7 linked regions of the Homo sapiens genome follow. The protein of the gene in region 4 purifies or fractionates together with the protein of the main gene of each other region. This does not show direct contact. Each region holds a gene or a part of one and is shown on either strand. Other genes may lie near its edges.

What was found.
Region 1: the proteins of TULP3 (region 4) and IFT43 purify together in Homo sapiens (affinity purification with mass spectrometry; 6 studies listed by BioGRID and IntAct, with this or other methods). This does not show direct contact.
Region 2: the proteins of TULP3 (region 4) and PML purify together in Homo sapiens (affinity purification with mass spectrometry; 3 studies listed by BioGRID and IntAct, with this or other methods). This does not show direct contact.
Region 3: the proteins of TULP3 (region 4) and PIP4K2C purify together in Homo sapiens (affinity purification with mass spectrometry; 3 studies listed by BioGRID and IntAct, with this or other methods). This does not show direct contact.
Region 5: the proteins of TULP3 (region 4) and WDR19 purify together in Homo sapiens (affinity purification with mass spectrometry; 6 studies listed by BioGRID and IntAct, with this or other methods). This does not show direct contact.
Region 6: the proteins of TULP3 (region 4) and IFT122 purify together in Homo sapiens (co-immunoprecipitation; 7 studies listed by BioGRID and IntAct, with this or other methods). This does not show direct contact.
Region 7: the proteins of TULP3 (region 4) and RAD18 purify together in Homo sapiens (affinity purification with mass spectrometry; 3 studies listed by BioGRID and IntAct, with this or other methods). This does not show direct contact.

The regions. Positions count from the first base shown.
Region 1 is NC_000014.9:76,058,594-76,062,689, reverse strand, and holds part of IFT43 (intraflagellar transport protein 43 homolog), read right to left. Parts: intron 4,049-4,096; coding exon 4,016-4,048; coding exon of another isoform or gene 3,922-4,015; exon of another isoform or gene 3,419-3,921; intron 3,364-3,418; coding exon 3,317-3,363; intron 1-3,316. UniProt on the Homo sapiens protein: As a component of IFT complex A (IFT-A), a complex required for retrograde ciliary transport and entry into cilia of G protein-coupled receptors (GPCRs), it is involved in ciliogenesis.
Region 2 is NC_000015.10:74,018,450-74,022,545, reverse strand, and holds part of PML (protein PML), read right to left. Parts: intron 1-4,096.
Region 3 is NC_000012.12:57,597,374-57,601,469, reverse strand, and holds part of PIP4K2C (phosphatidylinositol 5-phosphate 4-kinase type-2 gamma), read right to left. Parts: intron 3,513-4,096; exon of another isoform or gene 3,411-3,512; coding exon of another isoform or gene 3,408-3,410; intron 2,406-3,407; coding exon 2,259-2,405; intron 2,071-2,258; coding exon 2,032-2,070; intron 1,719-2,031; coding exon of another isoform or gene 1,668-1,718; exon of another isoform or gene 1,653-1,667; intron 1,147-1,652; coding exon 1,033-1,146; intron 660-1,032; coding exon 392-659; intron 226-391; coding exon 122-225; intron 1-121. UniProt on the Homo sapiens protein: Phosphatidylinositol 5-phosphate 4-kinase with low enzymatic activity. May be a GTP sensor, has higher GTP-dependent kinase activity than ATP-dependent kinase activity. PIP4Ks negatively regulate insulin signaling through a catalytic-independent mechanism.
Region 4 is NC_000012.12:2,897,135-2,901,230, reverse strand, and holds part of TULP3 (tubby-related protein 3), read right to left. Parts: intron 1-4,096. UniProt on the Homo sapiens protein: Negative regulator of the Shh signaling transduction pathway: recruited to primary cilia via association with the IFT complex A (IFT-A) and is required for recruitment of G protein-coupled receptor GPR161 to cilia, a promoter of PKA-dependent basal repression machinery in Shh signaling.
Region 5 is NC_000004.12:39,230,478-39,234,573, reverse strand, and holds part of WDR19 (WD repeat-containing protein 19), read right to left. Parts: intron 2,778-4,096; coding exon 2,618-2,777; intron 2,413-2,617; coding exon 2,302-2,412; coding exon of another isoform or gene 2,269-2,301; exon of another isoform or gene 2,266-2,268; intron 1-2,265. UniProt on the Homo sapiens protein: As component of the IFT complex A (IFT-A), a complex required for retrograde ciliary transport and entry into cilia of G protein-coupled receptors (GPCRs), it is involved in cilia function and/or assembly.
Region 6 is NC_000003.12:129,443,115-129,447,210, reverse strand, and holds part of IFT122 (intraflagellar transport protein 122 homolog), read right to left. Parts: intron 1-4,096. UniProt on the Homo sapiens protein: As a component of the IFT complex A (IFT-A), a complex required for retrograde ciliary transport and entry into cilia of G protein-coupled receptors (GPCRs), it is required in ciliogenesis and ciliary protein trafficking.
Region 7 is NC_000003.12:8,953,183-8,957,278, forward strand, and holds part of RAD18 (E3 ubiquitin-protein ligase RAD18), read right to left. Parts: intron 1-4,096. UniProt on the Homo sapiens protein: E3 ubiquitin-protein ligase involved in postreplication repair of UV-damaged DNA. Postreplication repair functions in gap-filling of a daughter strand on replication of damaged DNA.

The sequences.
Region 1 (4,096 bases), on a different chromosome or scaffold from region 4:
CAGCCTCGGCCTCCCAAACTGCTGGGATTACAGGCATGAGCCACCGCGCCTGACTGACTTAACGCATTTTCAACTTTATGATGGTGCAAAAGCAATACACGTTCAATGTGGTCCTTGACTCAAGAGGGGGTTATGGATTATGATATTTTGATTTATGTTACAATATTTTCAACTCACAATGGGTTTATCCAGACTGTAAGTTGAAGAGTGTCTGTATATCAGTCTTTAAAGGAAGACAAGATCCAGACTCAACATAATGATATTCACAATGTCCAGCATCCAATCAAAACCTACTAATCATGTAAAGAAGCAGAAAAACAGGCCGGGCGCGGTGGCTCACACCTGTAATCCCAGCACTTTGGGAGGCTGAGGCAGGCGGATCACGAAGTCAGGAGATCGAGACCATCCTGGCTAACATGGTGAAACCCTGTCTCTATTAAAAATACAAAAAATTAGCTGGGCGTGGTGGCAGGCACCTGTAGTCCCAGCTACTTGGGAGGCTGAGGCAGGAGAATGGCATGAACCCAGGAGGCGGAGCTTGCAGTGAGCCGAGATACAGCCACTGCACTCCAGCCTAGGAAACAGAGTGAGACTCTGTTTAAAAAAAAAAAAAAGAAGCGGAAAAATATGACTTGTAACCAGAAGAAAAATCAGTTATAGAAACAGACTCAGAAAAGACAGATATAATGGAATTAGCAGCAAAAGAACATGAAAAGAGCTAGTACAGGCTGAGCATCCCTAATCTGAGAATCCAAAATGCTCTAAAATCCAAAACTTTTTGAGCACTGACATAATGCTCAAAGGAAATGTATATTGGAGGATTTCAGATTTTGGATTTTGGGATTTGGGATGCTCAACTAGATAAGCATAATGCAAATATGCCATAATCTGAAAAAAATCTGAACTCCGAAACACTTCTGGTCCTAAGCATTTTGGATAAGGGATACTCAGTCTATATAAAGGCTACTATCAAGGATGAAAGAAAACATACACAGAATGAGAAGATTAATGGAAGATATACAAAAGGAAACCAAATGGAGCTTCTAGAACTGAAAAAAATATGTGAAATAATAATCCACTAGATGGGCTTAAAAGCAGACTAGACATTGTAGAAGAAAAGACCAGTTACACAGCAATACAAACGATCCAAGTTGAAGCACTGAGAAAAAAAGTAGACTAAAAACAAAAAACACCAAGCCTCAATGACCTGTGGAGACAATTGTGTGGGCATACAAACTTGGAATTAGAAGGAGTGGGAGGGAAGAAAAATATATTTAAAGAAATATTGGCTAAGATTTTCTGAATCTGATGAAAACTATAAATCCACAGACTGAAGAAGTTCAAGTAGGATAAACACAAAGAAAACCACACCAAGGCATATTAGGAACAAATTGCTGAAAATAACTGATAATGGAGAAGAAATCTTAAAAGCAGATAGGGGGAAAGATACATTACATACAGGGGAACAAAGATAAGAATAATGATCGTCTTCTCATCAGAAACAATGTAGGCCAGGCGAGGTGGCTCACACCTATTACAGCGGGTGGATCACTTGAGGTCAGGAGTTTGAGACCAAACTGGCCAACATGGTAAAACTCTGTCTCTACTAAAAATACACAAATTAGCCAGGTGTGGTGGCATGTGACTGTAGTCCCAGCTAGTCAGGAGGCTGAGGCAGGAGAATTACTTAAACCCAGGAGGTGGAGGTTGCAGTGGGCCCAAGATCATGGCACTGCACTCCAGCCTGGACGATGGAGTGAGACCCTGTCTCAAAAAAAAGAAAGAAAAGAAAAGAGAGGGGAGGGGAGAGCAGGAAAAGGAAAGAAAAGAAGGAAGGAAGGAAGGAAGGAAGGAAGGAAGAAAGGGAGGGAGGGAGGAAGGGAGGGAAGAAAGAAAGAAGGCCAAAGACAATAAAATAACTATTTAAAATGCTAAAAGAAAAAAATTGTCAGCCTAGAATTCTGTGTCTGGTAAAAAGTTGAAGATGACATTTTCAGACAAATAAAGCAGACAGAATTTCTTGCCAGACAACCTGTTCTACAAAATAATGATAAAGTTTTTCAGGCTGAAGGAAACTGATGCCAGATAGAAACTAGGATCTACACAAACAAACAAGGAGTGTGAAAATTATAAATAAGTGTGTCTAAAAAAAAAAGGCTTTGACAATTTGGGGCCGGGCGCGGTGGCTCACGGCTGTAATCTCAGCACTTTGGGAAGCCAAGGTGGGAGGATCACTTGAGGTCAGGTGTTAGAGACCAGCCTGGCCAACATGGTGAAACCCCATCTCTACTAAAAATACAAAAAATTAGCTGGGTGTGGTGGCATGCACCTGCAACCCCAGCTACTCGGGAGGCTGAGGCAGGAGAATCACTTGAACCTGGGAGGCAGAGGTTTCAGTGAGCCAAGATTGCACCACTGCACTCCAGTCTGGGTGACACAGCGAGACTCTGCCTCAAAAAATAATAATAATAATAATAACAATAATAATTTGGATCCCCTACGTAATCTCCTCCCTAGAAGGCTTCATTTTAGAGACACACACAAACTTCATCTTTTCTCCTGATATTTGAACATAGGCTTCCACTGTGCCACAGCTACTTGCCTTGTTAGTACTGTTTTCCCTGCGTTTATATAGCTAGCCATTAACTAACTACTATGCGTCACACACTGGAGATGCAAAGATAAAGAACATGTGTTGTCTGCCATCAAGAAGCTTAGAGGTCTGGTGGGAAAACAATCAAGCCAACAAAGAGTTAAAGCACAGTACATCCTAACTGTACTCAAATCCTGGCTCTACTCACTTAGCAACTGTGTGACCTTGGGCAACTTACTTAACCTCTCCATGCCTTCGTTTCCACAACTGTAAAATGGGGATAATAGTAGTACTACGGGGTTGTGGTGAGAGAAAATGCTTTAACATGTGTAAACTGGAAGGACAGTGCTTGGGATATAGTCAACACCTAGTAAATATTGGCCATGTTATTACAATGTTGGTTTGCCAAGGAGGTTAGAGGAGCATGGAGAAAGAACATCCAGTGAGAGAGGGAGTGGGATGGGAAGGGAAGATGTTTCAGGGGAAGTGATGCTTTGGCTGACCTTTTGAAGGATAAGCAGGGTTATCAGATAAAGAAGGGAGAGATACTCCAGGTAGAGGTGGCAGCATTCAGCAAGGCATGAAGATGTGCATCAGCATGCGTCAGAAGACCACTGCAAATGTCTTCAGTGATGCTGCAGCCAACAGTGCCTTAGCTGTAGCCCAGGAAATGTTCTGGGGCCTCTCTAGAAGACCTTTTGACTTCCTCCAAGGGCCTCTTACCTCCTCCATAATCTGATCCATTCAGGCTCTGTGGTCTGAGGCGGAAACTGCCCCCAAAAAAGAAGAAAAGGACAGCAAAAAATGAGTTTCAAACACGGAAAGGAACATCCCAAATGTTTATTGTATCCATTCTTTCTCCTAGATGAAAATGTCCCTGAACCTGTTTTTCTCTGTCAACTTAGTCAAACCTAATTAGGCCACTGGGTGTGCCGTGTGTGGTTGCACAGGCTGTGCGATGCACTATTCCAGAGGACAGCATCACAGAGGCTATGACATGAATGCAGCTTCCGCCCCTGGGAGTAGGAAACTGGGTGGCCCTACCTTCACAGCACCTTTATCTAGAAAACTTCTTTCTTTTCTGATATAAGTCTTATGAGAAGGCAAGGCTTAGAAGCTGGTATTGCTTCTGCCCATCTATATCAATAATGCAGAAGGCATGGGCCAGTACCCTGATACCTGGACATATAATTCTAAAACCACACAGTGGGAGATAGGACATGGGCATCAATGCCAGGGTCCAGACCTTCAGTTGAGGAAGCGGGATTAACCAAACCTTGGATTCAGCAGGCATCAATAATTCTAGCCCCAGACTTCTAACACAGTGTTCAACATAGGTGGAACAGATCATGACCACCAAGACTGCACTGTTGACCAAGATCAACATAGGATACCATAAGAATAAGAATACTGGAAACGTACTCTTCTATTTCTTCAGAAGCCTTCCTCCTAAACCTGAAAAAAAAAAAGAAAAGACAAGGTTTTTGAGAGCCCACTAGTCTC
Region 2 (4,096 bases), on a different chromosome or scaffold from region 4:
CTTCCCCACCGAGGAAGCACCAGGTGAGCATCGTGGGGTGCACCCTTCCACACATCTCTCCACTGAAACCGCCTTACACAAATGCCAGACTGGGCTGCTGCTTGCAGGATGGTACAGACTTGACACATGTCAGCCATGCCACTTAACCTTTGCAAGAGCCCCTTGAGTGAGAATTGTCGTTATACATATTTCCCAGAGGAAGAAACAGAACATGTTAAATGATTGACCTAGATATCTACAATAATTTTGGGGGCTGATGTTTGTTCAAAAAAAAAGAAAGAAAGAAATCGGCCGGGCGCGGTGGCTCACGCCTGTAATCCCAGCACTTTGGGAGGCCGGGGCGGGAGGATCACCTGAGGTCGGGAGTTCAAGACCTGCCTGACCAACATGGAGAAACCCCGTCTCTACTAAAAATACAAAATTAGCCGGGTGTGTTGCCGCATGCCTGTAATCCCAGCTACTCAGGAGGCTGAGGCAGGAGAATTGCTTGAACCCGGGAGGCGGAGGCTGCGGTGAGCCCAGATGGTGCCATTGCACTCCAGCCTGGGCAACAAGAGCAAAACTCCGTCTCAAAAAAAAGAAAGAAATAAATCAAGTCATATAATTACTTTGAACTTCCTCCTCTCAACGAACTTTCACTCAGAGCATTCCTCTAGGTGCATAGGCACAGATCAGATGTATTCTCTTTAATAGCTCTGGTATATCCCAGATGGGCCACAATTGATTCAATCACTGTCGTTTTGCTGGCATTCAGGTAATTTCCTGTTTGTGCATTTTCTTTCTTTCGTTTTCCTTTCCTTTTTTTTTTCTTTTGGTGCCAATATGGACAACACTTTAGTAATATCCAAGTTATATAGCCTAATCATGGAAGCTTTTGTTCCTATGAAATAGATTATAAATATAGGCCTGCTAGATCAAAGTGTTTGTATTTTAATATTTTTATTTGGTTATTTTTTTTTTGAGATGGAGTTTCGCTCTTGTTGCCCAGGCTGGAGTGCAATGGCACCATCTCAGCTTACCGCAACCTCTGCCTCCCGGGTTCAAGCAATTCTCCTGCCTCAGCCTCCCGAGTAGCTGGGATTACAAGCATGCGCCACCACCCCGGCTAATTTTGTATTTTTAGTAGAGACGAGGTTTCTCCATGTTGGTCAGGCTGGTCTTGAACTCCCGACCTCAGGTGATCCACCCGCCCCAGCCTCCCAAAGTGCTGGGATTACAGGTGTGAGCCACCGTGCCTGGCCTGGTTAATATATTTTAGCTAGCAGATACTTCCATAGCATTTATTGTGTCTCAGATACTATTATAAGCATTGGCAAATATTTACTCATTCAATCCTCCTGACAATCCAGTGGAATAGATACCATTATTATCCCCATTTTAAGGATGAGAAAACTGGTGCAAGAGGCAAAATAATTTGTTCAAGATCACACGATTAGTAAGTGGTAGAGTCTAGATGCAAACTGTAGTAGCAGAATAGTGGCCTCTAAAGATGTCCACGTGCAAATTCCTGAGACCTGTGAATATGTCACCTTACTATGGCAAAAGGGTCTTTGCAGGTGTTATTCAATTAAGGACTTTGAGATAAAGAGATTATTCTAGATTATCTGGGTGGGTTCAACGTAATCACGTGAATCCTTTCAAAGGAAAGGGCAGGGAGGCAGGAGAATGAGAGGAGATGTGATGTGATGAATGCAGAGGTGGGAATGTTGTGATGTTGCCGGCTTTGAAGACAGAAAGGGGCCATGCACCAAGGAATGTGGGCAGCCTCTAGAAGCTGGGAAAGGCAAGAAAACGTTCTCCCTGAGAGCCTCCCAAAGGAGCAAAGCCTGCTGACACCTTTATATACCTCAGTGAGACCTGTTTCAGACTTCTTACCTCCAGAACCATAACAGAATACATTTACATTGTTTTAAGCCCCTAAATTTGTGGTAGTTTGTTACAGCAGCGAAAGAAAATATAAAAACCCAGGCAGTCCAGCTTAGAGTCCATGTTCTTAACCATTACAAGGCTGCTTCTTCAAATATTACCAGGGAAAATACTGTTAGTTCCCCAGAAATATTGCTGTAATTTACTCTCACCGGCAGTGATAAGAATAAGTCTTGGTGGTGTGCGCCTGTAATCCCAGCTACTTGGGAGGCTGAGGTGGGAGAACTGCTTGAACCCAGGAGGTGGAGGTTACAGTAAGCCAAAATTGCACCACTGTACTCCAGCCTGGCCAACAGAGCAAGACTCCATCTCAAAAAAAAAAAAAAAAAAAAGGAATAAGTCAGCCCACCTGAGGCCAGAAGAAAGGGTCTCATCTGGGACTACACTGAGATCAACTTGTTCTGGAACCACCAACAGAGAGCCTACTAGCCAGCCAGACTGATACATAGTGCTCATCAATGCTACGTTTAATTAGAAATACTAAGCAATTATGAAAAGAACTAATAACTCTACAGAAGGCAATTTGGCAATACCCATCAGAATTACAAATGCATTTAACCCAGCAATCCTCTTTCTTTGGATCTGCTCTGCAGCTCTATCTCTACACATAACAAGATGATATCCATACAATATATTCACTGCAGCACAGTCCACAATAGCAAAGAATTAGAAGCCACCCACGTGTCCCTCACAAGGCAATTAGTTACATAAATTATGATCCACCCATACAACGGAATACTATGTAGCTGTAAGCCATTGAGGAAGCTCTTTATATACTGATAAGGAAAATTCTCCATGGAGAAATGAGGTTAATAATAGGAGTACTGGAAGGATTAAATGAGTTAATATATGGATAAAAGTTTGAAAAATGACTGGCATACAATGAGTGTTCAATAAATGCTAACTATTTGTATTATTATGATATATATTTTAAGTTAGAAATCAAGGTGCAGAAATGTGTGTATCAGATGCTACCTTTTGTGTAAGAATGGGGAAAAATAAGAATATCTTCATAGTTGATTGTATTTGAATAAATAAATATTAAAAGGACATGCAAATTAATAAAAGTGGCTATGGGATGGGTGGAATGAGGGTAGAGTAAGACATTCACTGCATACCTTTTTAGATTATGTTTGAGCCTTGTGAATGTATGAATGTATTCCTTTTTTTGAAATTAAAAAACAGAATACTAATAAATGTGGGCAATTCTATAGGGTATAGGAATAAAGGGAAGAGAATAAGAAACAGTTGTTATTTTCCCCCTTTGGATCTTGGACACTTGGGGAGAGGGGCTGTGTCTGATGTTGGATCCCCTTCCTTGGAGACAGGGTTCCAAGCCTGGAAGGGCACGCCTCAGGCAGCCTGGCTGGATAGAGAGCAAGACGTTCTGGATGGCCATAGCCTCCGCTGGGTCCTTTTTCTAAGCTTCTTTTGTCCTGAATGGGGTCTCCCTAGGGTGACTGGCCCCTGCTTTCCCTCTAGATGGAAATGGGCGGCAAGTGTCTGTGAGGTGGCTAGCCTGAATCAGACACCTGGGTCTAAAAGCCCCCAGCCCTCTGGTAAGACTGAGGTGCAGATCCTGAATCAAAGGGCTGCCACCCAGGGCCAGGAATGACCTTAGCCAAGCGGTTCCTTTACCTTCATTCAGAGGACACTCACTGAGTACCTGCTGCGTGCTTGGCACTTTGGAGGAGGCAGAGGTGAAGTGGGAAACTGCCCAGAAGGGCTCCGTGACAAGAACCCAGACTTAACCGTATCTTCAGAAAGGCGAAATAACATCTATTTGCTTCTGGAATACTCAAAACAATAAGCAAAAACACCACTAACTTAATAAGAAATTGCTCACCAAAGTGGCTAGATTACATAATAATTAAGAAAGAAAAATAGCATAATTCTATCTTAGCAAAGCAAATGAGAAGAAATATGGGAAAAAAATCCATCTTCCCATTCACAGCAGCTATTTAAAAAATTCTACAAAGCCATGATTGTGTGCCTATAGTCCCAGCTACTAGGGAGGCTGTGGTGAGAGGATTGCCTACACCCAGGAGTTCCAGGCCAGCCTGGGCAACTCAGCAAGAACTCCATCTCTAAAAAACTTTTTTTAAATTAAAAAAAAGAAGGTACAAAATACCTAGAAAATGACAAAAACCTACTAAGAGATAAGACTAAA
Region 3 (4,096 bases), about 55 Mb from region 4:
CCCCCACCCAATCTACCCCAGACCACCTCCATTCTTTTGCCACCCCATTGCTCTGGCACAAGAGACTCTATTCCCAAAGAATAGTCAAGACAGGAAAGGAAAGGCTTTTGCGAACTCTCACCCCATGCTTGACAGTTTTGGCTGCATGAGCTGCTTTCTTCTTAGCATCATACTGTGTAAGGATATCAATGAGGCCCATGAAGTAGACCTCCTTCTGGGGGGCTCCTGGGAGAGAGACCAACAATTCAGAGTAGGTTTAGTTCCAATTCCCTTTCTCCAGGAAGCAGTCAGTTTTGTTCTGAAAAGCTAATCAGGCTCTCCCCCAGCACTCTGGTCTCTGTCCTCCAGGAAAAATCCCCTCTCCACCCTTAAATTGTCCCGGTTCTCTCACCTTCAGCACTCCGGATGGCATAGACATCAATGAAGGACTCAAACTCTCCTGGGCCCAGGGGCCGATGGGAATGGATGTAGCCTCCGATACCCTCTGGGGAGGTGCCATAGGAGCCCACCAGAGCAGGAGGTCCAGTCAGGCTGCAGTCCCCATCCACCTCTGACTCATCCTCCCGCACGGGCGCTTCCTCCTCTGGTTCAGAGCCCCGAATGATGTCGTGGATGCCTAGCAGAAGGCTGTAGTCCATGATCTTCAGCTGCACTAGAAACTGAGACCCACTGACAAATCAGACACCTCTCTCTCACTCTTCACTGCTAGGTATCACCCCTGTACCTGTACCTTTGAATTTCTGGGGCCCTTCTGGGGAAAGGAAGTATAAAAATTGAGGTTGCAGGGCATACCACTGCCTTTAGTGCCTATATGTCCTAGTATCTAAGATCATCCTTTTAGCTTATTCCAGCCACCCCTTCCACGGGTCAGCTCCAGGGGTTTTTCATGTCTCATACTAAACCCCCATATAGGCAGAGGACCTGAAGAATAAAGGGAAGGGGAGGAGCTCCCTCATACCGTGAATGAAAGAGACAACTACCCTCTAGGGAGCAAAAAAAGGAAAGCCATTTCCCAGAGCACCCAATCATCACCTCCACATCTCTCTTCAGCTTCTCCAGAAATATTTTCTTCTCCTCTTCACCAATATATACTTTCTGGTTCTTGTTGAGAAAGTCCATATCCTTAAGGGTGGGCAATTCTTTAACCTAAGAATATGTAAAGGGACATCTTGGGAACATATCCCTTCCCCAAGGTCTCAGAACCCCACCTTCTGTCTAGGGCTCTATGCTAGCTCAGTTAGATCTCATCTAACTCCACACTGTGATGCTTCCCTGGTCTGTTCTCACCTCCAGTGACTTCCACAGACTCAGTCACTACAGCTGTATCCCAAATCACATCCCACTACTCTCTGCTTATGGTTTTTAGCCAAGACCCTCCAGGCTGACTTTTCTTTCTCCTCTTTTTTTTTTTTTTTTTTTTTGAGATAGGATCTCGATCACTCTGTTGCCCAGGCTGGAATGTAAGTGGTGTGATCTCAGCTCACTGTAGCCGCGACCTCCTGGACTCAAGTGATTCTCCCACCTCAGCCTCCCAAGTAGCTGGGACTACAGGCGCGTGCCACCACGCCCGGCTAATTTTTGTGTTTTTGGTAGAGATTACGTTGCTCAGGCTGGTCTGGAACTCCTGGGCTCAAGCAGTCCTGCCTTGGCCTTCTAAAGTGCTGGGATTACATGCATAAGCCACCATGCCCGGCCTGTGTCTTCTTAAGCAAAAGTAGCTGCTTGAATAAAATAACCCAGAATGGGAAGTGGAAGTTAAACACTTTGCTCTTCAAGTCTGGCAACCTCACCCATCCCCAAGCCTTCCATATGGAATAACCCATGCCAGTGTTAAAGCAGCTGCTCCCACTGCCCCTTCCAAACAATCCCCGGATCAACAGAAGTTTACCCCCTTCTTTTAAGTGGTTTAAGATAATAAATAGCTAGTAATCCCTATTCCTATATAGAGTGGCCTCTCCATCCTAAGAAGTTCCCCTCATCTGCCCTCCCTCATCCCTCATCCCTCACCCTAGCACATAAAATTACTATCACCTTTTCCTTATCGCTGGCTTCCCGGGACACTAGGGAACCCTGCAGAAAGACCCAAACACCAAGTCAGTAGAAGTGGCTAAAAGAACAGTCAGAACCCAGCCCCTAAGATGAGTACTCAAACCCAGCCTTCTTTCCCTTAAAAGGAATCATCCAAAGACCTCCCAGGGTCTTCCCCATTCTCAGGCTATCAGGAGCCTCCCTCTAAGTCCGAGCTACCCTCTTCTTACCTTGAGGTCATACTTCCTGTGCACAGGAAGACGGTGGCTAAACATATTGCGCATCACAAGCATGTAGCTGTCTTCGTTGTCCACACTGACTCGGTACATCCCCAGGAACTGGGGCAGAAGCGTGTTGCCATGGCACTTCACAATGTACTACAGTGAAAGAGGGGGAAGGAATGGGGAGAGGCTGAGTAGCAGATACACAAACAGCCCAGGGAAGTTCAAACACTGCCATTCCAGGGTAGAGCAGAGGACTTCAAGTAGAGAGATTACAAAGTCAAAAGTGGTGGAAGCTTCCCCAAAACACTCCAGGTTATCCATGCCGTTTCTGAATCCCCCTTTCCTCTGATTCCTTCCATTTGTACATCTCTTAATTTTTAAGTGTCATCTCTCAATTCACCTTTATCATTCTTTGAGATGAGGAAGGTTAAGTGTTATTATCCTTATTTTAGACCCTTTCTATATGCAAGTGGCACAGAACCAGGATTACAACTTATATCTTATCAATGAAATCATTTTATCTAGAGCAGTGTTTCTTCATAGGCTAGATTCCCATAATTTAAAATGTCTGCATTGGGTTGGGCTGTGCTGTGTCATTCTGTCACTGTAATATAAATACAGATTTTTATACCTAAAAAAAAAAAAAAGTCTGCATGATGGCCTACAATTTGGATTTTTTTTTTTTTTTTTTTTGGAGATGGAGTCTCACTCTGTTGCCCAGGCTGAAGTGCAGTGGCACAATCTAGGCTCACTGTAACCCCCGCCTCCTCCCAGGTTCAAGCAATTCTCCTGCCTCAGCCTCCCGAGTAGCTGGGAGTACAGGCGCACACCACCACGCTCAGCTAATTTTTTGTATTTTAGTAGAAGCGGGGTTTCACTGTGTTACCCAGGCTGGTCTCGAACTCCTGAACTCAGGCAATCTGCCCACCTCGGCCTCCCAAAGTGCTAGGATTACAAGCGTGAGCCACTGCACCCGGCCTACAATTTGGATTCTTTTTTAAAAATTCTCCTGTTAAGCCAGGCTCACACCTGTAATCCCAGCTACTTGGGAGGTTGAGGCAGGAGGATCGCTTGAGCCCAGGAGTTTGAGACCAGCCCGGGGAACACAGTGAGATCCTGTCTCTAAAAAACAAAAATTACTCCTTCAGTGCTTACCATCTCTCTTTCTGTGTTGCTGCCTCTTTCTCTTCACAGCCAACCTTCTCAGGAAAGTAATCAGCAAGAAATCCATTTCCTGTCTCTCATTCACACGTTGAATCACTGAAATCAGGTTTATACCTCATTTCTCCTCTGAAATCTCCCCCATATCCCTCAGTTGTCAAATCTAGTAAGTATTCTAGTCATTGTCATATTTCAGCTTTGTGGCACTTGATCCTATTGACCAGTCTCTCCTTAAAAGTCTCCTCATCCTCAGCTCTTATTATACCACCCTCCTGATTCCCCTCCTCTCTGTCGTCGAATCCCGTATGGAATGTAGCATGGCATAAATAATTAAAAGTGTCCATCTACTCTTAGTTTCCTTTATGGGCTCATTTCTTCACTTGTTCCTTTAGGTTCTGTCCTCAACCTTCTTTTCATTTCACTGCACACAACCTCCCTACAATAATCGTATCTATAGCCATGGTTTTAATGATCACTTACTCACATATAATTCTCAAACCTATACTCCCAGTCTAATCCTCTTTCCTGAATTCTGTACACATACCCCAACCACTTACTGGACATCCTCATCTGGATGAATTGCAGAAACCTCAAATTCAGTATGTCCAAATCAGAACTTTCTTCCTCCAAAAACCTGTTCCTCTGTTTCTAATTTCTGGTGAATAGGCACCCAGTTATCCCTA
Region 4 (4,096 bases):
TGAGGCAGGAGGATTGCCTGAGTCAGGAAGGTCAAGGCTGCAGTAAGCCGTGATTGTGCCACTGCACTCCAGCCTGGGGAACAGAGACCCTTTCTCAAAAAAAAGAGGTGGGGGGAGGGGGCCCAAAATATTCACAAAAGAACTTTTCCGAATGGGTAATAAGCACATGAAAAGATATCCAATATGATTAGTCATTAGGTAAGTGTGTACTGAAACCACAACATGGCCAGGCACAGTAGCTCACGCCTGTAATCCCAGCACTTTAAGAGGCAAGAGGATCGCGTGAGCCCAGGAGCTCAAGACCAGCCTGGGCAACATGGTGAAACCGTCTCTACAAAAAAAAAAAAAAAAAAAGTATTTCGGCTTGGTTGCGCATGCCTATAGTTCCAGCTACTTGGGAGGCTGAGGTGGGAGGATTGCTTGAGCCCAGGAGGTTGAGCTATCGTCACACCGCCACACTCCAGCCAGGGTGAGAGAGCAAGACACTCTCAAAAAACAAAAAATAAAAATAACTGCAAGTAGAAAAAAAAAAAGTATCTGCAAGGTCTACAGGAATAGAAGAATTCCAGAAGGATATACACAAACTATTAACAATAGTTACCTCAAAGGTAGGGTGTTAAAAAAAAAAGTATTATTCAAAACAGATGTTTTTGAGTTTAAAAAGAGTACTTTATTAATTCTACCAAGACATCAGCTGACAAGGGTAGCAGAATAGGAAAGCTTGCCATCTCCCTTAGGCTTTACTTTTGTAATTTCATAGACCCAGTCACCGATCATTATTCCCTTTCAGTTTTTGGACATTTAAATTTTGCACTAATAATCTGTTATTGATATATTGATGTTTATACAGGTTACTGCAGGCAACATTTCCAATCCAAGTGCTTCAAACAGCCTAAGAAAGTGCTTTTATGCTCTAAATGAAATTGAGGAGAAAGGAGGAAAGTACGGTCCAGAGACCATCTACAGAACAACGTATCTTTAGAATCCAAGTTTTTTTGTTTTTGTTTCTGAGACAGAGTCTTGCTCTGTCGCTAGGCTGGAGTACAGTGGCGCGATCTCGGCTCACTACAACCTCTTCCTCCCAGGTTCAAGCTATTCTCCTGCCTCAGCCTCCCCTGTAGCTGGGAACACAGGAGTGCGACCACGCCTGGTTAATTTTTTATTTTTTTTGTATTTTTAGTAGAGACGGGGTTCCAACACATTGGCCAGGCTAGTCTCGAACTCGTGATCTCAGGTGACGCGCCTGCCTCAACCTCCCAAAGTGCTGGGATTACAGATGTGAGCCACCACAGCCGTCTCCAAGTTTTTTTTGTTTTTTTTTTTGTTTGTTTTTTTTTTGAGACGGAGTCTCGCTCTGTCGCCCAGGCTGGAGTGCAGTGGCATGAGCTCTGCTCACTGCAAGCTCCGCCTCCTGGGTTCATGCCATTCTCCTGCCTCAGCCTCCCGAGTAACTAAGACTACAGGCACCTGCCACCACACCCGGCTAATTTTTTGTATTTTTAGTAGAGACAGGGTTTCACTGTGTTAGCCAGGATGGTCTCGAACTTCTGACCTCGTGATCCGCCCACCTTGGCCTCCCAAAGTGCTGGGATTACAGGCGTGAGCCACCACGCCCGGCCCCCGCCTCCAAGTTTTATCTTGAAAATTAAATTCTGGGTTTTATTCCATAAGGTAACGGGTTCCATTTTAATATAAAAACAATCTTCAATGCTCTCTTAAATAATATTCACAGTATGAATAACTATGACCTTCCAGGAAAAAATACTTTTATGATTTAGCACAGGGGCTGCAAACTATAGCGTGTGGGCCAAATCTGGCCTGCCGTCAGTTTTTGTACTGCCTTTGAGCTAAGAATGAATTTCGCTGTTTTTTTTTTTTTTTTTTTGAGACGTCGTTTCGCTCTTGTTGCCCAGGCTGGATTGCAATGGCGTGATCTCAGCTCACCACAACCTCAGCCTCCTGGGTTCAAGCGATTCTCCTGCCTCAGCCTCCCGAGTAGCTGGGATTACAGGCATGGGCCACCATGCCCGGCTAATTTTGTATTTTTAGTAGATACATGGTTTCTCCATGTTGGTCAGGCTGGTCTCTAACTCCTGACCTCAGGTGACCCACCCGCATGAGCCTCTCAAAGTGCTGGGATTACAGGCGTGAGCCACTGTGCCCAGCCTATGAATTTCACATTTTTAAAAGGTTAAAAATATCTGAAGAATAATATTTTGAGACATGTAAAAATTATATTAAATTCAAATTCCAACCAGGTGCAGTGACTCATGCCTGTCATCCCAGCACTTTGCGATGCCTATGTGGGCAGACTGCTTGAGGCCAGGAGTTTGAGACCAGCCTGGGCAACATAGTGAGACCCGTCTCTACAAAAAATTTAAAAATTAGCCAGGTGTGGTGGTGCACACCTGTAATCCCAGCTACTCAGGAGGCAGAGGAAGGAGGACTGCTTGAACCCAGGAGTTCAAGGCTGTTGTGGGCTACGACTGCACCACTGCACTCAGCCTGGGCACATAGTGAGAACCTGTCCCCCCAGCCCAAAAGAAATTATCACTGTGCAGGAAGTAATGAATAAAAAGAAAAAAGTCTTCAAATTCCAGTGTCCATAAAGTCTTATTGAAATAGACACATTCATTCACTTACCTATTATCTATGGCTGCTTTTGTGCTACAACAGCAAAACTGAGTAATGAGCAACTGGGACAGAGACTGTATGGCCCACAAAACCAAAAACGTTTGGTTAAGACCTTCGCAGAAAAGGACTACTGGCCAGGGGTGATGGTGCATGCCTATAGTCCCCGCTGCTAGGGAGGCTGAGGCGGGAAGATGGCTTAAGTCCAGCAGTTCAAGACCAGCTTGGGCAACAAAGCAAGACCCCATCTGAAAAAAAATAATTAAAAAGGTCTGCTGACCCCTGGCTTGGCCTATATTAGTTCAAACTAATTGTAAGTCCCCATTTAGAGACGTGTGCTATGTGGTTACAGCACAGTTCCCAGTACAACTTAACCTAGTAAAGCCTCAAGTTTCCTAATTTACAAAGTGAGGACAATGACACTTAACTCAGAAGGTTATTGTGAAGATTAAATGAAACTTGGCTCATAGTAAGCACTCAAACTGCAACTGCTATTATATCTTTTTTTTTTTTTTTTTTTGAGATCTAGTTTCCGCTCTTGTTGCCCAGGCTGGAGTGCAATGGCGCGATCTTGGCTCACTATAACCTCTGCCTCCCATGTTCAAGTGATTCTCATGCCTCAGCCTCCCAAGTAGCTGGGATCACAGGCATGCGCCACCACACCTGGCTAATTTTGTATTTTTAGTAGAGACAGGGTTTCACCATGCTGCCCAGGCTGGTCTCTAACTCCTAACCTCAGGTGATCTGCCTGCCTTGCCCTCCCAAAGTGCTGGGATTACAGGCATGAGCCACCGCACTGGGCCTAGAATTTTTTTTTTTTTTTTTTTTAAGAGACAGGGTCTCGGGCCAGGCAGAGTGGCTCATGCCTTTCCAGCATTTTGGGAGGCCGAGGTGGGAGAATCACTTGAGGCCCGAGTTCAAGACTAGCCTGGGCAATACAGCAAGACCCTATGTCTTGAGAGAGAGAACAAACGAACATGACAGACCAACAGACAGACAGGGGGTCTCACTATGTTGCCCAGGCTGGTCTTGAGCTACTGGCCTCAAGTGATCTCCTTCCTCCTGCCTCAGCCTCCCTAAGTGCTAGGATTATAGGCCTGAACCACTGTGCCTGGGAAGATTTTTGTTTTACAATACTTCTTAATACTACAAATGAATGTGTTACCTTAATCTTCACTTCAGTGAGAAGACTAATGATTTCATCATAATACTTTATCACCTTTCAAAAGCTTTCGAATGTTGGAAACCCAGAAATTTCTAATAATTTCCCCTGTATTAAAAAAATCTTTAGGCTGGGCGTAGTGGCTCATGCCTGTAATCCCAGTACTTTAGGAGGCCGAGGCAGGTGCATCACCTGAGGTAAGGGGTTCGAGACCAGCCTGGCCAACATGGTGAAATCCTGTCCCTACTAAAAATACAAAAATTAGCCAGGGGTGGTGGCAGGCACCTGTAATCCTACCTACTC
Region 5 (4,096 bases), on a different chromosome or scaffold from region 4:
AAATTGATTCTTGGAGGGGCAAAAAAATCTTAGCTATTATAATGGTTTGTGGCCCTCCAAAACTCAGTCGTATCTAACAAAATCTTAGTCCTTAGTATTTAATTTTTCTCAGCAAGGAGTAATCAAATTAAATTAATGTAATCAATTAAATTAAAGTTAATTTTTATTTTTAGAAGGTAGTGATTCTAAAAAGTTGAGAACACTTTGCTATAGGAATTGGTGTGTTTTTCTTAGAAAATCTGAAGCTCTATCACAAGAGTAATAGCAAATGTAACTAAAATGTAAATATATGTTCCTGTGGTCTTTTTTCTCTGCCTGGTACATAATTCTAAATATAAACTCATCATTAATCTTTTAAAGTTCATTCCTCACTTTATTCATACTTCCTAAACAATAATAGCTAACATTTTTCAAGTGTTATTATCTGCCAGATACTGTTCTAGGGGATTAGCTTATTTATCTTTCACAACTACCCTTTTGCAATTTATTAATACTTTCTTGTATCCATTTTAGAGATCCAGAAACTGAGGCAAACAGAGGCTCCTCTGTATATAAGGTTACACAGCTGGTACATGACAGAGCTGGGCAGTAGGGCTCTGCCTCTGAACTCTTCACCTGGTTAACTCATCAGCTTTCAAAGTGAGGTTAAAGAGTAATCACCCCTCTCCATTATCAATCCATTACCTCAAATCCTTTCCAAGTCTAGCAGCACATGACAAGTGCCCACAGTTAAATGCAAAAGAGTTGAGATGATATATTTCCCCTCAGTCATCGCAGCCATATTCCTATTTCAGTGAGTACTAATCCAAGTTTTGAAAACTTCTCAGGGTGTCCCAATTATCTTAAATAATACTGTAAAATTACCTAAATTTTTCTTATAACAAAGTTAATTTAGTTCACTTAAAATTTAAAAATGAAAATTTGCTATAGAATGATTTGTAAAAGGAAAGTTGTAAAATTAATAACAAACGCTCCCAAAACAAGCTCTTTTACATAGTTGTAGAAATGCCAGTTTTAGGTGAAATAATATTAATGATTACAATAGCTAATTATGTGTCTTTACTATTGATCAGGCACTGTGCTAAAAGACCTCATTCTCATTTTTAAATCCTTACAAATATCCCGTGGGTTAGATATTATTCTTCCTACTTTAAAGAAATAGGATCTAGGGTTCAGAAAGGTTAAATAACATGTCCAAGCTTACACAGAGCTGGAATTTGAACCCAGACATGTCTGACTGTGAAGTCTATGCCCCTCATTGCTAGTCTATATTGCCAGGTTTCCCTTCTTCCCTGCCCTTGAACTAACCAGGCCCTTCATCCTGCTCTAGGCCCTCTCCTGCAATGCTCACCTCTGGGAAACCAGTGATGGTACACTAGTCCTTAGCTCACCTTTTAATACACAACAGAATTTCACACAATAAGGATAAATGTGCCTCGGTTTTCCCATCTGGAAAATAGAGAAAAAACCAATCCTATCTCATAGGATTGTTGGGAGGGTTAAATGAATTAATACATGATAAGTGCTTAGAAAAATGCCTGGCCCACATGAGCACTCAATATATGGTGATATTTTTCCTTGTATATGTTTTTGTAATTTACACAATCTGTTCTCTTTGGACACATTTAGATTTCAATTAGTAATGTTATAATACCATGCATTTTATACCTCCACAAAATGCAGAATAAACATTTTTGAATTATAATTTTAATGATTAACATTATAATTAATGAGTACTCAGGGGTTCTTAAACTGACATGTTTGAATTTTAGGAGGGGGAAGGCATATAGTGTCTGTGCTGAGAAATTTTAATTATATAGAAGGGGTGATCCTCCTTTGATATTCTTATGTTCTTTCCTTTTTTTTTTTTTTGAGACGGAGTCTCGCTCTGTCACCCAGGCTGGAGTGCAGTGGTACAATCTTGGCTCACTGCAATCTCTGCCTCCTAGGTTCAAGCAATTCTCCTGCTGGGGCAGGAGATTACAGTAGCTGGGATTACAGGCTCACTGCAACCTCCACCTCCCAGGTTCAAGCAGTTCTCCTGTCTCAGCCTCCTGAGTAGCTGGGATTACAGGCACATGCCACCACGTCCGGCTAATTTTTGTATTTTTAGCTGAGATGAGGTTTCATCATATTGGTCAGGCTGGTCTAGGACTTCTGACCTCAGGCGATCCATCCACCTTGGCCTCCCAAAGTGCTGGAATTAGAGGCGTGAGCGGCTGCACCCGGCCCCATTTTTTTTTCCCCCATTTCCCCACTGGATACCTCTTACACAATTTCCATTCTTACTTGCTGCCATACCTCCAGGGCAGCAATAGGACAGCTGGATGCAAGGTACAAGTCCTGAGCCAGGTTATAATCGTTGGTAAACATGGCAAGGTGTCCTGCCAAAAGATTGTAGTCCTCTATTCCCTACAAATAAAAGCAATTCTGATGAGAAAAAAAATGCAAGAGTTTAACTTTTTTTTTTTTTTAAGGACTTTGATCAGTAGGAAGTGGTAACGTTCTATCGATTCACTTGTTTAAGAGGTAAGATTAAATGCAAAAAATTTAGACTGCATTTAACTTAAAATAGCATTTAAATTTTAACTTGATAATTCTATAACATGCTGTTTACCTTTATTTGTTCCAAGGACATCACTATGCCAACATTTCCAATTCTCCGATAAACACGGATTGCAAACTCCACTTCCATGTGATGTAGACAAGCTCTGGCCAACTCATTCCAGGCAGCCTCATCATTCAGAATCCTGCACATTTCCCAAGCATCAGAAAACCTGGGATGTAAGAACATAAGCTTAATCAGAATGTTCCACTTGCCACATGTTAGGCAATTTTCAGACTACATGTCATCTAATAGCGTGCCCCAGATAAACTGTCTAAAACATTTCTTAACCTGTAATTGTCATTTACAAGTAATGAAAAAACACTTAAGCTTTCTTCCTTTTTTTACAGATAAATGTTTTTCCCTAAATTTCTTTTATTAATCTGAATCTACTCTGTAATAAGCCTACTCAATTAACTAAGCTAATCCTATTCATTTATTTCTTTTTATTTCACACATAGATGAATATTATTTTTGTTCTCATATAAGTCTAATAAAATTAGTATTCTATTCCTATAAATTTAGAAGTTTAAAACAGGGGTCAGCAAACTATGGCTTATGGGCCAAATCTAGTCAGGTGCTGTTTTGAAAATACAGCTTGAGTGGAACAAAGTCACTGATCAGCCCACTCTTTTTTTTTTTTTTTTTTTTTTGAAGACGGAGTCTCACTCTGTTGCCCAGGGTGGGTGGAGTGCAATGGCGTGATCTCACCTAACTGCAACCTCGGCCTCCTGGGTTCAAGTTATTCTCCTGCTTCAGCCTCCCGAATAGCTGGGACTACAGGCGCATGCCATGACACCCGGCTAATTTTTTGTATTTTTAGTAGAGACAGGGTTTCATCGTGTTAGCCAGGATGGTCTTGATCTGCTGACCTCATGATCCGCCCGCCTCGGCCTCCCAGAGTGCTGGGATTACAGGTGTGAGCCACCGTCCCCGGCCCAGCCCACTCTTTAATGGATTGTCTGTGGCCACTTTCCTGCTACAACAGCCAGACTGAGTAGCTGCGATAGAGACCCTATGGCCCGTAAAGCTTGAAATATTTGCCATTTGGACCTTAACACAAAAGGTTTTCCGACCTCTGGTTTAAAACATGAACATAAATGCCAATTAAACTTTTTGTGGAACCTCTACATGAGTGAATATATTACATCCATCTATCTATTCATTCATCCATTTATCTATTCACCTATCCATTTTTTCATCCAACACACATTTACTGAACTCGTTACATGCTTGGAAACATGATACAAAAATCAACCACAGTTGCTGTCCTTAAGGCAGTCACAATTGGGGAAGGTGGAAGAGACAGATAAGGAAACAAATGACTATAGCATAGTTTGACAGAGGTAACTGAGTACTTACAATAGGTAACTCTTTGTGCTAAGTCTTTTGCATAAATTCTCTTACCCTAATAACCCTACCCACTAAGTATTATTATTATGTCTCCTTTATAGATTAGGAAAATGAGGCTTAGAGACGTCAAAAGACTAG
Region 6 (4,096 bases), on a different chromosome or scaffold from region 4:
TGAGGGCTGTGTCACTGGCTGTGGTCACTCATATTAGGCTCAGAATAAATCTCTTAAAATATTTTGCAGTTTGACTCTTCTTGCCAACACAAGTAATCAAAATAATTTAATTTGACTGAAACATCTGGCTATGTGCAAGATGTTGCTAGAACATGGAGAAATGAGGCTAGAAAAATGGGCTAGAGCCATATTACAAAGATTTTTCAAATGCCCCAGGCAGAGGATTTCATTGGTTCAGGTGACTATAGTAAGAATGTGTCAAAAACCTGTCAAAACAGACTATTGTTAAGGTTACTACTGAAGTTACTCAAAACAAAACACACAAAAAACAAACAACAACAACAAAAAAACAAAACCCAACCCATAGTAAAAGTTTAGCATGGGATAAACTTGCCAGTGTCAACAAAAAATCAAACTCTGTAAAATATCTGAAGAGATTTATTCTGAGCCAAATATGAGTGACCACAGCCCATGACACAGCCCTCAGGTGGTCCTGAGAACATGTGCCCAAGGTGGTCAGGGTGCAGCTCGGTTTGACACATTTTAGTGAAACATGAGACTTCAATCAAATACATTTAAGAAATGCATTGGTTTGGTCCAGAAAGATGGAACAACTTGAAGCAGGGGGCTTCTAGCTTATAGGTTGATTTAAAATTTTTCTGACAATTGGTTGAGCTTATCTAAGGACCTAGGGTCGGCCGGGCGCGGTGGCTCATGCCTGTAATCCCAGCACTTTGGGAGGCCGAGGTGGGTGGATCATGAGGTCAGGAGACTGAGACCATCCTGGCTAACACGGTGAAACCCCGTCTCTACAAAAAATTAGCCAAGCATGATGGCGGGCACCTATAGTCCCAGCTACACGGGAGGATGAGGCAGGAGAATGGCGTGAACCCGGAAGGTGGAGCTTGCAGTGAGCTGAGATCGCGCCACTACACTCCAGCCTGGGCGACAGAGTGAGACTCTGTCTCAGAAAAAAAAAAAACAAAAAACCTAGGTTCAACAGAAAGGAATGCCTGGGTTAAGATAAAGGATTGTGGCAACCCAAGTTACTGTTTGCAGAGGAAGCCTTGAGGTACTAGGCTTTAGAGAGGAGAGTTTGTAAAATGTTTCTTATCATACTTAAAGTCTGTGTTGATGTTAATGCCAGAGAGGTATACTGAGGCATGTTTGACCCCCATTTCCCATCATGGCCTGAAACAGTCTCTCAGGTTAAATTTTAAAAGAGCCCTGGTTGAGAAGGAAATCCATTCAGATGGTTGGGGGGCCTCTGAATTTTATTTTTGGTTTATACCAGTAATCTAAAAATCAAGCTTTTGTCAGTAACTTGGAAGTACACTCTCAATGACAGTACTTCGAACTCTTATTCCAGACAGCACCTGCTGAGCTCTTAAAATGCATTATTTTATTTCATCTCCACAATAATTCTGTGAGGTAGGAATTATTACTCTGTTTTGTAGATGAGGATACCATGGCTCAGAGAGGTCAAGTAGTTTGCCTGATGTCACACAACTAGCAAGTGCAAGGGCCAGGATTTCAACTCAGGTCTGACTCTAGAGTCTGTGCTTGTAATTAACGCGCTATGCTGCCTTCTGCTCCCTTGAATTACTGCCAAGTATGTCAAATCTGTTATCCTTCATACTTTAATAACAGTGACTAACATTTATTGAACACATTTATTATTGTGTATGCCAGGTACAGCTTAAATGCTTTACATGTATTAACTCATGTTAACCTCAAAACAACTGTATACCTGTTTCACAGATGAGAAAACTATGGTACAGAGAAGTTAAATAACTTGCCTGAAAATAAAGTGCTACTGAATGGAAATGGAGCCAGGATTCAAACCAAGGCAATCTGTTTTTTTGTTTTTGTTTTTGTTTTTTTTGAGGTGGAGTCTTGCTCTGTCACCCAGGCTGGAGTGCAGTAGCAGGATCTTGGCTCACAGCAACCTCTGCCTCCCAGTTTCAATCGATTCTCCTGCCTTAGCCTCCTGAGTAGCTGGGATGACAGGTGCCTGCCACCACACCCAGGTCATTTTTGTATTTTTGGTAAAGACAGGGTTTTACCATGTTGGCCAGGCTGGTCTCGAACTCCTGACCTCAAGTGATCCATCTGCCTCAGCCTCCCAAAGTGCTGGGATTTTAAGTGTGAGCCACTGCATCCGGCCTCAAACCCAGGCAATCTGGCCTGAAGCCCATGTTTTAACCATTATGCTATGTGGCTGCCATTATCATTGTTGGCATATGTCAAAAAAAGGTATTATTACCTACTTAAGGCATTACATGAAGAATTCAGAAAGCTTTTAATATGGCTCTGTTGACCTGACGCTTCCTTTAATAAAAACTCTTCACAGTTATTCAATATTTAAGAATTGTTAAAGAGTGTAAACTTGGCCAGACATGGTGGCTCACGCCTATAATCTTAGCATTTTGGGAGGCCGAGGCAGGCAGATCACGAGGTCAAGAGATGGAGACCATCCTGGCCAACATGGTGAAACTGTATCTCTACTAAAAATACAGAAATTAGCTGGGCGTGGTGGTGCACACCTGTAGTCCCACCTACTCGGGAGGCTGAGGCAGGAGAATGGCTTGAACCTGGGAGGCGGAGCTTGCAGTGAGCCGAGATTGCGCCACTGCACTCCAGCCTGGCAACAGAGCGAGACTCTGTCTCAAAAAAAAAAAAGAGTGTAAACTTACATTATCTTATTTGATCCTTACGAAAACATAATGTAGTAGACAGGACAGGCACCACTGCCCCGATTTTACCAATGAGGAAACTAAAGTACAGAGAGGCAAGTTGTTTGCTCCTAGTCACAGAGCTGGCTGATAAAGAAGCTGGAACAAGGATGATTATCACACTCTTTCCAGCTGGGCAAACTGAAGCCCTGAGTTTTTCAGCTTCCTCACCATTATGTGGTAACAGACCTGGGCCTTCCTTGTTTCTTACGCTTTCTTCCTCTGAGCCTTGGCACATTTCACATTTTGAGAAGCAGCATGGCGGAATAAAAAGTAGGGGGGACGTGGGGCCAGAAAAGCTGATCTCCTATCTGAGCTTTCATTCTCACCTACAAAACAAGGATAGAGAGGTAGCCTCCTACTCACGGGGTGCACAAGCCAGTCTATCCAAAGCGCCTGACACTTGTGGATTGCTATGGTGGATTATTAGATGTTGGAGCAGTGTCTGCACCTCTCATCTAAAGTCATCCTTGGTATGTGGCTTCCTTTCTGCCTTGTACACATATGAGCTCATCAAAGTGATTCCTGTGTGACCTCTTCTTCATAAGGGTCATTTTGGGTTGAATTATCACAAAATCATTTCTGAATGTCTCATTTGAGCCAAGCCTGAACATTCTTCCTCTTAGATATAAAAATTCATTTTCTCTGAATATCTTGAAATTTGCCTTCCTAAAATATATCATATATGTCTGATTTGCCCCAATCTAAACTCTTAATGTACTTAGAATCTGTACATTTCAGTTTAGCTCTGACTTATACAGTCTTCTTTACATTGTGTTAGATATTATCTTGCCTTGCCCCTTTAATTATAGTCATACACAATTTGAAAGCAATGGCCATGTTCTACATATTTGTGGACCCACAGTGCATGGCACTGTCCTAGACATGTAATAAATATAATTATGAAATCACCAGAAACTCAGAATTGGAAAGGACTCTAGACCTTGTCATGCAGTCCATCTGGCCCATCAGGGCAAGAATTCCTTATAGATGGCCATCTAGCCCCTGCTTGAACACTCCAGGGCTGGGAGCTCACTCATTTGCAGGCAGTCTATTCTACTGTAGGATGGTTCTCTCTCCACCTGCCTCTTTTTATAAAAGAGATACACTGTCAGAAGACACACTGTCAGATTCCATTGCAGAGATACAGAGGAATCCTGCAAATTGTCCTCTGACAACCCTGCACCCACCTCACTGTAAACCAATGTCCCACAGTGCCTCTCCAATTCCTGCATCATCTGACCCAGCCCCACTTACTCATTTTGTAATCTTAGGTAACTTATGTCACCTCATTAAATCTCAATTTCTTCATCTTTAAATGAGATGAAAATTCCAACCTCACATGTTGTAGAGATTAAACA
Region 7 (4,096 bases), on a different chromosome or scaffold from region 4:
TTATATAATGTATACTTATACAATATAGTGTATACATTATTATATATGTAATTGTACCTATATAAGTATACATTATATATATTATGTATACATCAATAAATAACATTTAATTAATAAGGTCACATGTACCTTTTAAATTAGTATTTATAATAAGGCTACTGCTTTCTCTTCTGCATAATCTTGTATATCTTTCCTCTTCTTTTCTTTTGAAATGAGGAGAACCAGATATGGAGTCCTAAGTAGATCAAGCCCTAGGCTTAATTTCACTCTACTAGACTACTACCAAATATGTACTGGTAAGCTGCAGACCAGCATAATTTATTCTCTAGTGGGCAACTATGACAACCCTTCCATTCAAAGAAGAACAGCTGAAGAGTTTTGAATTCATGTATTCCCAGAGGGCTTCATTTAAATCACCTATGAAATTTGTCTTTCCATCCAAGAGAGCCCAAAAAAGATGTGTGGGCAGAGTGGAGGAAGGTACAATAACAACAATGAATTAAAGAGTAGTTTCACAGAAATATCCAAGCCTTGGGAGAGGGGGCATCTCTAATCCCAAGCAAGATCCTAGATAAAATAATTGGCTTGTGGACACTGATAAATTACCACTATTTTAAAGCTTGGCCAGCAATCTTTTTTTTTTTTCCTTTTGTGGATTTTGACTCAAAAAAAATTAATCAAAGCTTGTGTAGAAGTAAAAAGCAATTTTATTTCATTTTTTAAAACAAACTGAAATATGAAATGTTCCCCTTACGAAACCTTTGCTAATTCAAGAGACAACATAAGATTCTATTAGGCAAATAATAAACGTGTTTATCTTCTTTTATATTCTCATGAAGTAGCACTGTGAAACAAGGCAGAGGAGAAGAGAAATAGCTACACACACAAAAGGGAGATATAATTATGCAGAGCTGCACTTCTGGAAATTCTGAAATGCTAGTCTTTAGTTGGAGGGATGTTATTCTCTTACCAACTAACTGTCCCTTAACATTAGAACTGGAGGCAGATGCCAACCTTTTCAGCTTTCTTGGACCTCCTGTTCTTTTCACACTGGTTTTTGCTTTTAACTGGACACTTTAGATGTTTCTTTCTAAAAAGTTCCTTCTTTCATAAAGTCCTTAAGATTTCACATGACAAGGATTCATTTAAGTTTTAGAAATTTCCTTTTTACTATTAAGATGCTAGACTCTTTTGATGTTTGAAAGCCAGCCAATTGCTAAATATTTTGATCATCTTCCATTATGAAGTGAGAAAAATTATAGCAAGTGCAAAGAAAATTGGCACTTGGGCATATTAGTCTATTAGCAAGACCATTTCTCACTTAATGGTGTTTTATGGGTTGGAGTAAGTCTGCTCCCTCTCGCCCCCAAAATACTCTTTAATAGCACAAATTTGGATCAATTTAATTGACCTGCATTCTGCCAAGGCACCCCACTCACACCTTTGTACCTGCAGAACTACAAATGTAGTGTTTATTACTCATATCCAAAAACCTAAACAGAACAAAACAAAATAAAGTGATTTAAAAATGATAAATCATGAAAAATCTAAGAAGCAACAATAAATACCTAGGATTCTGGATCACCAATTCTAGTCAATCCAAGATGATACCAGAACATGACAGACCTGGCTTCCACTACAGCCCTGGGGGTTTTGTGTCATTAAAACACTAAAGACCCAGAGCAAATTTTAGACATGACGGGACTTGTGACAACTGGTGTTTAGTAGAAGAGGCCTACTGAATACTGAGACTTCACAAGTGAAAAAAAAGTGCTCATAAAATAAAAAATCATCATTACTGAAACTTCCCTCCACTGACTTCCTCTTAAAGAATGGCATAAGTGACAGCTATAAGTCATGAAGAAGTGAGCAAACAACATGTATCCCTAGGGAGAGAAACAGAAGACTAGCACTTACATTGCGGGGGCTACTTGAGAAACTGGTTTCTGAGCTGCCTGAATCTATACACTGACAGAAAAGGGAACCAGGTTGAGGGCCACTGAGAACAAAAGCAAAGGTCTGGACTAGTACCACACTCACTGGCCAGTGTGCCTCCCCCAGGCTCAGCAAGGAAGAGAAACCCCCAACTTTCTGCCTGGGGAGAGAAAGAAGGGAAACACGGTCCAATGTTCTAGCTTTTCCAAGAGCTGGCCAGAGGACTGGCTTCTGTCTCACCCCACTAAGCATGAACCCTGCATGTTCTAGGTGACTGGGGACTGCTAAGAATAAAAAAAAGCTGGGTTGCTTGCTACTGATCCACAGGACCCATAGAGCAGACAGAGGCTGATATAGCTCTGCGGCTTATCTTGGGAGGGGAGGCTGGGAGAGAATAGTGGAGTGTGTGACCAACATTTGAACTTTTCAAAGGACTGCCTAAGGGAATGGTTTCTGTCTCACTCAACTTGGGGTGCTTTGGATCAGCATACTTTAGATGCTTGAGGGCAGCTGAAAACAAAAAAAGAGGCTGATGGCTTACAGCAACTCTGGAGAACCTGCAATACCATGGACAGACACATGAGAGAGAAAAACAGCAGCTAATGAAAAAACTGACCAAATCTCTCGGCTTGGAAATTTATAATCACAAGTCCAGGGAAGACACATCCACAGAAAAGGCTTACGAAGCCCCTAGAATCTGCAGTCAAGCTGACTAGTAAAGATCTTTCTCTATATGGTAGTGCCCCCTTATACACAGGCGAGACATTCCATAAAGCGCAGTGGATGCCTAAAACCACAGGTAGTACTGAATCCTATTTATACTATGTTTTTTCCTATACATACTTACCTATGATAAAGTTTAATTTATTAATAAGACACAGTAAGAGATTAGGAACAATAACAATAACATAGAATTAAAACAATATACTATAACAAAAGTTATGTAAATGTGGTCTTTCTCTCAAAATATCTTGTGCTGTACTGTAGATGGTACTGTAGATCTTAGCAACCTCAGCATACAATTTTCTTTCCTTTCCTTGTTAAGAACTTTCACCTTTTCACTTAAAGGAAGCATTTTATGGTTTCTCTTTGTCATATCCGAATTGCCAGCATCATTACTCTTGTGCTTTGGGGCTACTATTAAGTAAAATAAGCGCTACTTGACACAATTACTGTGTTCTGCAACACAGTGACAATTACTGCCATGCTGCAACAGTCAATCTGGTAACCAGGATGGTCACTAAACGATTAACGGTAGATAGCATATGTAACATCAACACACTTGACAAAGGGATGATTCCCATCCTGGGCAGGACGGCACAAGATTTCATCAGTGCTTTACTTAGAACAGAGTGCAATTTAAAACTTATGAATTATTTATTTCCAGAATTTCCCATTTAGTATTTTCAGAATGCAGTTGACCACAGGTAACTGAAATCACAGATAAGGGGGGACTACAGTACAAAGCCAGTCTGTAACAAAGCCACTGTGAGGGAGTGAGGCCCTGTCTCCCAAACAAAACAAAACAAAAACAACGTTATTAGCTATGTCACAAAATAAAGGAAGAAAATCATATGAGCATCTCCATAACTGCAGAAAATACTTGACAAAATTCAACACCCATTCATGATTTAAAAAAAAAAATCCTCTCGCCTAACCAGGGGTAGAGAAGTGCCTCAACTTGGTAGGTTTATGAAAACATATTAAGAATATAAAAAAAACTTACAGCTAACATCATACTTAATGGTAAAAGACTGAATGCTTTCCCCAAAAAATTAAGAGTAAGGACAGGATGTCCCTCCACACCACTTTCAACACTGTAGTTGAGGTACCAGCCTGTGTAACAAAAAGAAACATAAAGGCATATAGATCAGAAAGGAATGAGTAAAACTGTCTTTATCCACAAATGACATGATTGTGTATGCAAAAATTTCTAAGGAATCAACAAAAAAGATGCTGGAATTAAAGTGAATTTACTGCAGTCAGAAGACGAAAGGTCAATATAAGTTATATTTCTTTGTGCAAGGTCTGTGCAATGAAAATCAAACAACACTGTTGAGAGAAATAAAGATAGAGAAGTGTATCATATTCATACACTGAAGACTCGGCATTGTTAAGATGTCAATTCTCCCAAATTGATCTCTAGATTCAATACAATTCC